2 separate regions of the Homo sapiens genome follow, and region 2 is linked to region 1. The links come from fine-mapping of genetic effects on gene expression. A gene starts in region 1. The other region holds a variant in brackets. All regions are shown on one strand. Distances are from middle to middle. Region 1 holds the start of TMPRSS6 (transmembrane serine protease 6). Region 2 overlaps IL2RB (interleukin 2 receptor subunit beta).

What was found. PIP is the estimated chance that this variant, and not a neighbour inherited with it, causes the effect.
Region 2: its variant is the best candidate, but not a certain one, in a credible set for the expression of TMPRSS6 in whole blood (TOPMed, PIP 0.60).

What each region holds. Positions count from the first base shown.
Region 1 is chr22:37,107,602-37,112,122 of GRCh38, reverse strand. It overlaps TMPRSS6 (transmembrane serine protease 6), which reads left to right and starts at 2,410. Exons shown (of 18, transcript NM_001374504.1): 1 at 2,410-2,620. RefSeq lists an enhancer at 3,679-4,180.
Region 2 is chr22:37,130,733-37,134,732 of GRCh38, reverse strand. It overlaps IL2RB (interleukin 2 receptor subunit beta), which reads left to right. Exons shown (of 10, transcript NM_000878.5): 9 at 2,265-2,349. Among named protein-coding and RNA genes, the nearest start is that of IL2RB, 17 kb to the left of the region's middle. The variant C/T (reference allele first, on the strand shown) is at 2,167.

The DNA.
Region 1 (4,521 bases):
CCCAGCCCCCATGGGCAGGGGCCTTCACACCTTAGGACACAGGGGTGCCCCCCACGCACATGTCAGGGAGGTACCTGCCTACTGCTACAGGCCCCCTTAGGGAGCACACGCCAGAGAGCATGGGGCATCTACGTGCTTGAGACATGCGTGAGGGGCCACACAGGTAGGCACCACACACATGCCACCTGTCATTGCCTGGACTTCAGTGCACAGGCACACCTGGCCCCGACACACCAGCGTGTCACCATGAGAAGAGGAGAAACCCGCTCTCGGCGCCCCCCACAGTGCTGGGCCTTCGCACACGTTGTTTCCCGTTCATCAAGAAGGGGCGAATTTTTTTCATTCGACAGATGGAAGAAGCACCGCTCAGAAGTCAGGGAATCTGCCCAGGTTCCTACAACTAAAAGGGAGCCAGGTAGGGCTGAAAACCGGCGGTCACGGCAAAGCCCGGGCGCGGGGCCCTGTCCCATCCCAGCCAATCCATAAGCATCTCACACTTCACACCCGCTGCACACTCCACTCACACGCCTCACACTCCACACATGCCTCACGCTCCACACACACCTCACACTCCACACACGTCTCACACTACACACACGCTTCACACTCCACACATGCTTCACACTACATACACCTTACACTACACACACACCTCACACTATGCACACACCTCACACTAAACACATGCCTCATATTCCACACATACTGTGAGCATGCACACACACACACACACAGCTGCACACACCTCTCATGCTCCATACACACCTCACACCATACGTACCTCAAAGACACACACACCTTACACTGCACATTCCCAGCACCCACACTGCACACACATGCACAGTCCATATGCCCACACAACACACTTCACACACCCCCCACCCCACACCATACAAACCTCACAGACACACCTCTCACACAAATCTTATACCCCACACACAATCCCTACGCTCCACACACACACACACACACACACACGCACATTCTACACATACATAATCTACACACACAAATTCCAGACTGTCTCTCTTACACACACACTCTGGGACCCATATGCCCACAGCACACAGCATCTCAGGCGTGCACCCCGCATTCTGGCCTCAGGATGTAGACTCGCTGAAAGTCAGCCTTGTCTGAGACAGACGCCCGCTGCCCTGCACGCACCCTAGAAAGCCCTGGCTCCCATCCGGCACTTCGGCACGCATATGGCTCAAACCCATCTCCACAGCAACGCTGTTCCATAGAACAACAACGCAGGTCACACTTGTGACTTAACCTGTCTAATATCCACATGCAACAAGGGGTGTGGTGGCCCGCGCCTGTAATCCCAGCTACTTGGGAGGCTGAAGCAGGAGGATCATGTGGGCCCAGGAGCTCCAGACCAGCCTGGCAACCTAATGAGACCCTGTCTCTGAAAAAAAAAAAAACAAGAGAGCCAGAAGAAAATTGCTTTTAATAATACATTTTATTTATCCCATGATCACCAGTGTTATTTCAACATAAAATCAATATAAAAATTGTTATCGCGTTGGTTGACATCCTGTTTGCACTTGGCCTTGGAAACCTGGTGTGCGTCTCCCCCGTGCAGCTTTTCTCAGTTCAGACTGACTCAAGAGCCACGGGTGACCAGCGGCTACCGTCATGGACAGCACAGCGCTACGGAACCAGGTAGGAATTCATGCTGCGTGCGGTCGCTCATGCCTGTAATCCTAGCGTTTTGGGAGGTCGAGGTGGGTGGAATCACTTGAGGTCAGGAGTTCGAGACCAGCCTGGCTAACATGGTGAAACCCCATCTCTTCTAAAATTATGAAAATTAGCCGGGCATGGTGGTGGGCGCTGTAATCCCAGCTACCTGGGAGGCTGAGGCAGGAGAATTGCTTGAACCCGGGAGGCGGAGGTTGCAGTGAGCCGAAATCACACCACTGCACTCTAGCCTGGGTGACGGAGTGAGACTCCATCTTAAAAAAAAAAAAAAAAAAAAAAAAGAACGAGGTAGGAATTCAAATAATTCCCAGCTAAACAGAAAATAGCATCAAACCCCACCCCTGCCTCCCCTTTCTCCTCTCCAGTCCCCAGAGTATATGGGCCCAGCCTCCTTTTCTCTCTCTCAGGCCAGCAGCTCCTTTAGTCTCGCCTGTCCAGGTAAGCACCTGGACTCACCCTTGTGAGCCCCTGCACTCACCTGCACCGGCCTCTGCACAGTCCCCAGTCCTTGGCTGTCCCTACCTCATGCTCTCGGGGACCAGGGGCTGTAACCAGGCAGGCATGTCACCAGGCAACGGGCCTCGGGGGAGAGCTCAGATCTCCCGCACCTGCCTGCCAGCCTCTGGGGTGCCCATGCGGGGGTGGGGGAAGATGGGGCGGGGCAGGCACTGCCTTCTCCTACCTCCTGCCTGTTTACCTGTACTTAGTCACAGTGCTGTCCAGGACCCAGCAGGAGGAGTTCCATGGAGCCTGAGGCCACAGGCCACAGGGGACAAGGGCCAGACACCCTGGTCATGGCTCTAGGCCATTGATCCAGCCTGGGCTGGCTGGGTGGGGGTGGGGAGGCCTTGGCCTGGACAAACAGAGGCTCCTGAGGCCTGTGTGCAGGCCCGGCACCTATCTGCCGCTCCCAAAGGTAAGCGGGGGCCTCCAGGACAGGGGACCGGGATCTATAAATGACCTAGTGACAGTGTCCACCCTAAGAGCTGGGCCTGGCTCCCTGCAGCCTGAGCCACCTACCCTGCTCCGAGGCCAGGCCTGCAGGGCCTCATCGGCCAGAGGGTGATCAGTGAGCAGAAGGTGAGGGGCCCACAGAGCTGGGGAGGGGAGGGACCACGCAGGGTGACACCAGGTGTGTGGACAGGCACAGCATCAGTGCTGGGTGGTTGGTGGCCTGGGATTCAGGTGGCAGGGACAGGAGGAAGGGAGAGGCCACCCTACCCCTGCCTCGCAGGACTGGACATGCTGCCCCCTCCACACCCGGTACCCCACCTGGGCCTTCTGGTGTAGGAGACAGGCCCGGAGCCCCACATTGCACCTATGTACTGACTTAAGCCCAGGACCCTGGGCTCACAGGCTCAGAGTTGGCATGTATGTGTATGTGTGTTCGTGTGTGTGTCTGTGTAGGAAGGGCGTGCATCTATGAATTTTTGTGTCATGAATAGATGTGCGTATATCCCTCCGCGTGTCTCCATCTGTGTACATCTGTGGGTCTGTGAGTGTGTTTATATGTGTGGAAGGGACCCCCACCCAGTCCCCCACACTCTCAGGACTCTAGGGCCTAATGGTTTCACTGAAAGATGCCCCTATGGCCCTAGCCCAGAGTCCCTGCTCTGCTCTGCTCTGCCCTGGCTGAGGGACCTCGGGTAAGTCATGTTACCTCTCTCTACCTCAGTTTCCCCAGCCATTAAATAGAGTCAGCAAAGTAGGCACCCCAGGCTGTTGGAGGCTGCAGTGGAGTTTGCAGCACTGCCCAGCACAGGGCTGGCACATGGTAGGAGTTCATACGCAGTGGTTGAATCCGGATCTGCATTGCTGGGGGAGTCGCGGCCCCGCCCCAAGGAGCTCAGCCTCCAGCAGGCAGACCCGAGACCCTCCAATGGCCAGAAGGGCAGGAGGGAGTGAGGAGCAGGTGCCAGGGTGGGGTCCATGGTGCTCAGAGCTGGGGGACTGCTTCAGGCCCCTGTGGCAATTGGAGCACAGTCCCCGCTTCCAGGAGTTCAATGTGAGGGGCAAAGAGAGAGTGCCCACAGGTAAGCTGCACATCGCGAGGGGCAGCCGCCCCTTCTAGGGCACTCTGGGAGAGCTGCGAAGAGGTGAGGTCTGAACTGAGGTGACAGGGGCTGCATAAGAGCTGGCCAGGTTGGGAGGTGGGGGCCCAGGCAGAAGGAAGAGTGTGGGGACGCCTGGCCGTGAACAAGCACTGACAGGGCTCAAGGTCCACGAGGGCTCTTGGTGCCGGCTGGCTGCTCTTAATCCATAAATGTTTGCTACCATCCCATTGTTAAAATTTCTCACCAATGGAAGTCCAGTGTCCTTGGGGTGCGACGGGGAAAAGAGAGGGTGGGAAAAAAGGAGGCAGGAGAAGTTGGCCAGGCCACATATGCACACAGCACCTTGGACTTCTGTAGGGAGGAAGGAGCTGGGACCTTGTCATTCATTCATTTAACAATTACTGAGTGTCCGCTGAGTACCAGACTCTGCTCTCATGCAGCTTACAGACAGGGAGGAGGCAGATAAATGACATATTTGCATATCAGGCAATTTAGGCCTCTGTAATTGCTATAAAGAAAAATGCAGGAGAGACGGGAGTGCCCAGGGAAGGCCTCTCTGGAGAGGTGACATCTGACCCTTTGGAGGAGGTAAAGGAGGGAGCCACGAGGCCAGCAGAAAGGAAAACATCCCAGGCCCAGCAAGGAGCAAACCTCCCATTCAGCAAAGAGGACAGGAAAACTGAGACCCTGGGTCTTTAGGGACTGTGTTCTAGGTGGATGGAAGCCGTGCGAGGCTTGTGGGCAGGGCACATGGTGACAACAC
Region 2 (4,000 bases), 23 kb before region 1:
GACGTATTGCCATTCCTTAGGATCCATGGAAACCAGTTCCAGGACCCTCCCTACCCCCTACAGATACCAAAGCTGGTGGATACTCAAGTCTCTGATTTTTGTTTTATTTTATTTATTTATTTTTTGTGAGATAGAGTCTCACTCTGTCACCTAGGCTGGAGTACAGTGGCGCAATCTCGACTCACTGCAACCTCCACCTCCAGGGTTCAAGCGATTCTCCTGCGTCATCCTCCCGAGTAGCTGGGACTACAGGCACACGCCACCGTGCTCTGCTAAGTTTTTGTATTTTTAGTACAGACGGGGTTTCACCATGTTGGCCAAGCTGGTTTCAAACTCCTGACCTCAGGTGATCCACTCGCCTTGGCCTCCCAAAATGCTAAGATTACAGGTGTGAGCCCCCACGCCCGGCCTCAAGTCCCTGATTTAACACAGCAGAATATTTGCGTGTAACCTACACACACCCTCCCAGAGACTTTAGGTCATCTCCTAGATTACTTATAATACCTAATACCATGTAAATGCTATGTAAATAGTTGTTATGCTGTATTTTAAAAATTTGTATTATTTTTTATTATTGTATTGCTATGAGGGTTTTTTTTTCCTGAATATTTTTGATCAGAGATTGGCTGAATCCGTGAGTGCAGAACCCACGGATCCTGAGTGCTGACTGTATCAGGAGCAGAAAACAGGGAGGGGAAACTTGGCTGGGGCGTGGCCAGGGCTGGTTTCCCTGAGGAAGGGATGATTCTGTTGAAATCTGTAGTGGGAGCCCATGGGGGGTGTGGAGGGGATGGGGAGAGTGTCCCAGGCAGAGGAAACAGCATGTGCAAAGGCCCTGGGCAGGCAGGAGGGAAGAAACTTCCAGGAACAGAGTGCAGGGGCGCTGGTGTGGCTGGAGACAGAAGTGGGTGGGGCAGGAGGCTGAACTTGAGCCTGGGCCTGTGGCGGCAGTGATGCTTCCTGGGGCCTCAGGCTGTGGTGAGGACCTGGGCCGTGTGCCGAGCAGTCATGGAGGGTTTCCCCAGAAGTGGGACAGGATCCACTTCGCCCTCTGTAGCCCTGGCTGCTGTGTGGAGCGTGGCCTGGTGGAGGGCAAAGCGGTGAGGAGGTGACACTTCTGACCGGGGGTTGTGGCCCCCTGATGAGAGCCCTGCTTCTCCCAAGAGGTTTGCAAAGCGTGCCTAGCTGTGTCACCTCACTCGACTTTCCCCAGCACTGGGAAGGCAGTGAGTCAGGGGCTACCATTGCCTTTTAACTGATGCCAGGACTGGCCAGAGAAGTCAGCTGACTTGCCCAAGGTCACATAGCCAGTTAGGAGTGACTGCCGCTCTCCTGACCCTCGTCCTGGAGCAGTGGTTCTCGGCAGTGTTCGGAGCCCCGTTTCCTCTTTCCTCCCAAGAAGACAAGCATTCCTCCACCCACCCGTCCCCTCCGCCCACAGCTCCCTGCAGGCCTTCAGGGAAACCATGTCCCTGTAGAGGGAGAGGTCCTCTCCCAGGCATGGGTTCAGTGGCCTCCAGACTGCCCTCCTCCTTGTCGTTCTTGCGCCCCTTCAGTGCTTTCTCCACCATGTCATTCTCCTGTTTAACACTCTTCAGAGGCCGCTCACTGCGCTGCAGTACACCCTGGCCCTTGAGGGCCTCCACCAGCTGTGTGGAACCTTTGGGCAAATCAAAAATGGTGCCTCTTTCTTCACGGTGATGTACACAGCTTCCAGGCACTCAGCTTAGCAAGCAGAACATGGGCTGGAATTCAGCCTCACTCACCACCACCTTTCCCACTCCCTGCCCAAGCCTAATGCCCTTGGGCAGTGTACAACCTGAACCACCATCCATGGCAGCCCTGACAAGAAAGCCCATCTCCTCTCTCCCGCCTCCTGGTTCATTCCACTTCTTCTAGCCATCTCCGTCCCTGACCACTCTGGCTTGTGTGTTCACCCCCATCGACCCCCACCTCCCCGTCTTGTGTAGCACTGTGCTCTCTGTCTCCACAGAATGAATGGTGATGTTGCAACATGCTTTGTGTCCATCTCCCCATGAGAATGTCAGCTCCTTGAGAGCAGGGACCTCCTTTGTTGGCCATTCTTGTCTCCCCAGTGCCCAACACAGCGTCCTCCCACAGTGAACACTTAGTATCGGCGGAAGAAATACATAAGTAAATGTGGTG[C/T]GGCTCCGTGCCTGGCATCCAGAGCTGTGGTGCCGATGGCATAACACCGCGGTCCTTCCCTTTCTCACCCTCCTCCTTCCCTCCTCTCCTCTGTCCAGGCTGAAGAAGGTCCTGAAGTGTAACACCCCAGACCCCTCGAAGTTCTTTTCCCAGCTGAGCTCAGAGCATGGAGGAGACGTCCAGGTAGGAGGCCGGGGCGGGGAGACAGAGGTGGGCAGGGGTGTGAGTGGGATGAGGGGGTGGCAGGTTAGTAGCTAATTTTGTGTTTTGTGAGAGGAGACAAAACGCCGAAGTGAGCAGCCTCCGGGGTGTGCATGGGTCTCTTCTCCAGCTCTGGCACTTTCCATCTGAGCCAGACTGCCTGGGTTCTAATCCCAGCTCCACCACATTCTGGCTGTGTGACCTTGGGCCTATAGAGCCTCCCTGGGCCTCAGTTTCCCCACCTGTTAGATGAGGAGAAAAACAGTGTTACTATGTGTCCTGCCCTGAGTACATTGCCTGGCACGCAGTTAGTGTTCAAAAGAACCCTATCAGGCTGGGTGCAGTGGTTCATGCCTGTAATCCCAGCACTTTGGGAGGCTGTGGCAGGTAGATCACGAGGTCAGGAGTTCGAGACCAGCCTGACCAACATGGTGAAGCCCTGTCTCTACTAAAAATACAAAAATTAGCCGGGCTGGTGGTGCATGCCTGTAATCCCAGCTACTCAGGAGGCTGAGACAGGGGAATCGCTTGAACCCAGGAGGCGGAGGTTACAGTGAGCTGAGATGGCACCACTGCACTCCAGCCTGGGCGACAGAGTGAGACTCCATCTCAAAAAAAAAAAAAAAGTACCCTATCTGGTATTACCGTTGCCGGTGTGCTGAACGAACAGGACCTGCCAGCACAAGCTCTCTCCACCCCACTGTCTGTGCAGACATGCTCTGTGCTTCTCCTGTCCCTGCTCAAAATTCCTGAGCAGGCTCCATAACTTAGCGTGGATACTAACAAGTCTTCCCGTCACTTTGAGTCACAAAACACCGATTCATTTTTAAAGTGCCGGCCCGCAGATCAGTAACGCTCTAAACTCCATCTCAGATTCCGTCGTCTCCTCTTCCCCAGCCCATGCCCCCTTCAGGCAGGAAGCTTCAAGAATGAAGGGGGGACATGGGGGGTACTTTTTACCACCCTAGCCCCACTCTAGGCTCCCAAGATTGGGGGGTGGGGATGAGGTAGGGGCAGAGGGAGGTCAAGAAGAGTGGCGGAGGAGGAAAGCCATGCCGGACCAGAGCTGTCATGACCTGGCTTTGGAGTTCTCTATCAGGGCTGATCAAGGGCCCCTTCTGGAACTCCTTGGAAAACTCCCAAGATGAGAATATCTTAGTTGCAGTGCTTTTATTTATTTATTTATTTATTTATTTTTTGAGATGGAGTCTTGCTCTGTCGTCCAGGCTAGAGTGCAATGGCACGACCTCAGCTCACTGCAAACTCTGCCTCCTGGGTTCAACCGATGCTCCTGCCTCAGTCTCCCGAGTAGCTGGGACTACAAGCACACACCACCACACTTGGCTAATTCTTGTACTTTTAATAGAGACGGGGTTTTGCCATGTTGGCCAGGCTGGTCTTGAACTCCTGATCTCAGGTGATCTGCCCGCCTCGGCCTCCCAAAGTGCTGGGATTACAGGCGTGCGCCACCGTGCCTGGCCATTAGTTGCAGTACTCTTAATGTGCGGGAATGTATTTCCTTAAAATTCTTCCCTCAGCCTTGAGGGTAGCAAGATTCCCATCTATAAAGGTATTCAAGCAAGCCATGGTTGCCTATGTGTCAGAAGCATAGAGATTCTCCCATTGAACTGGT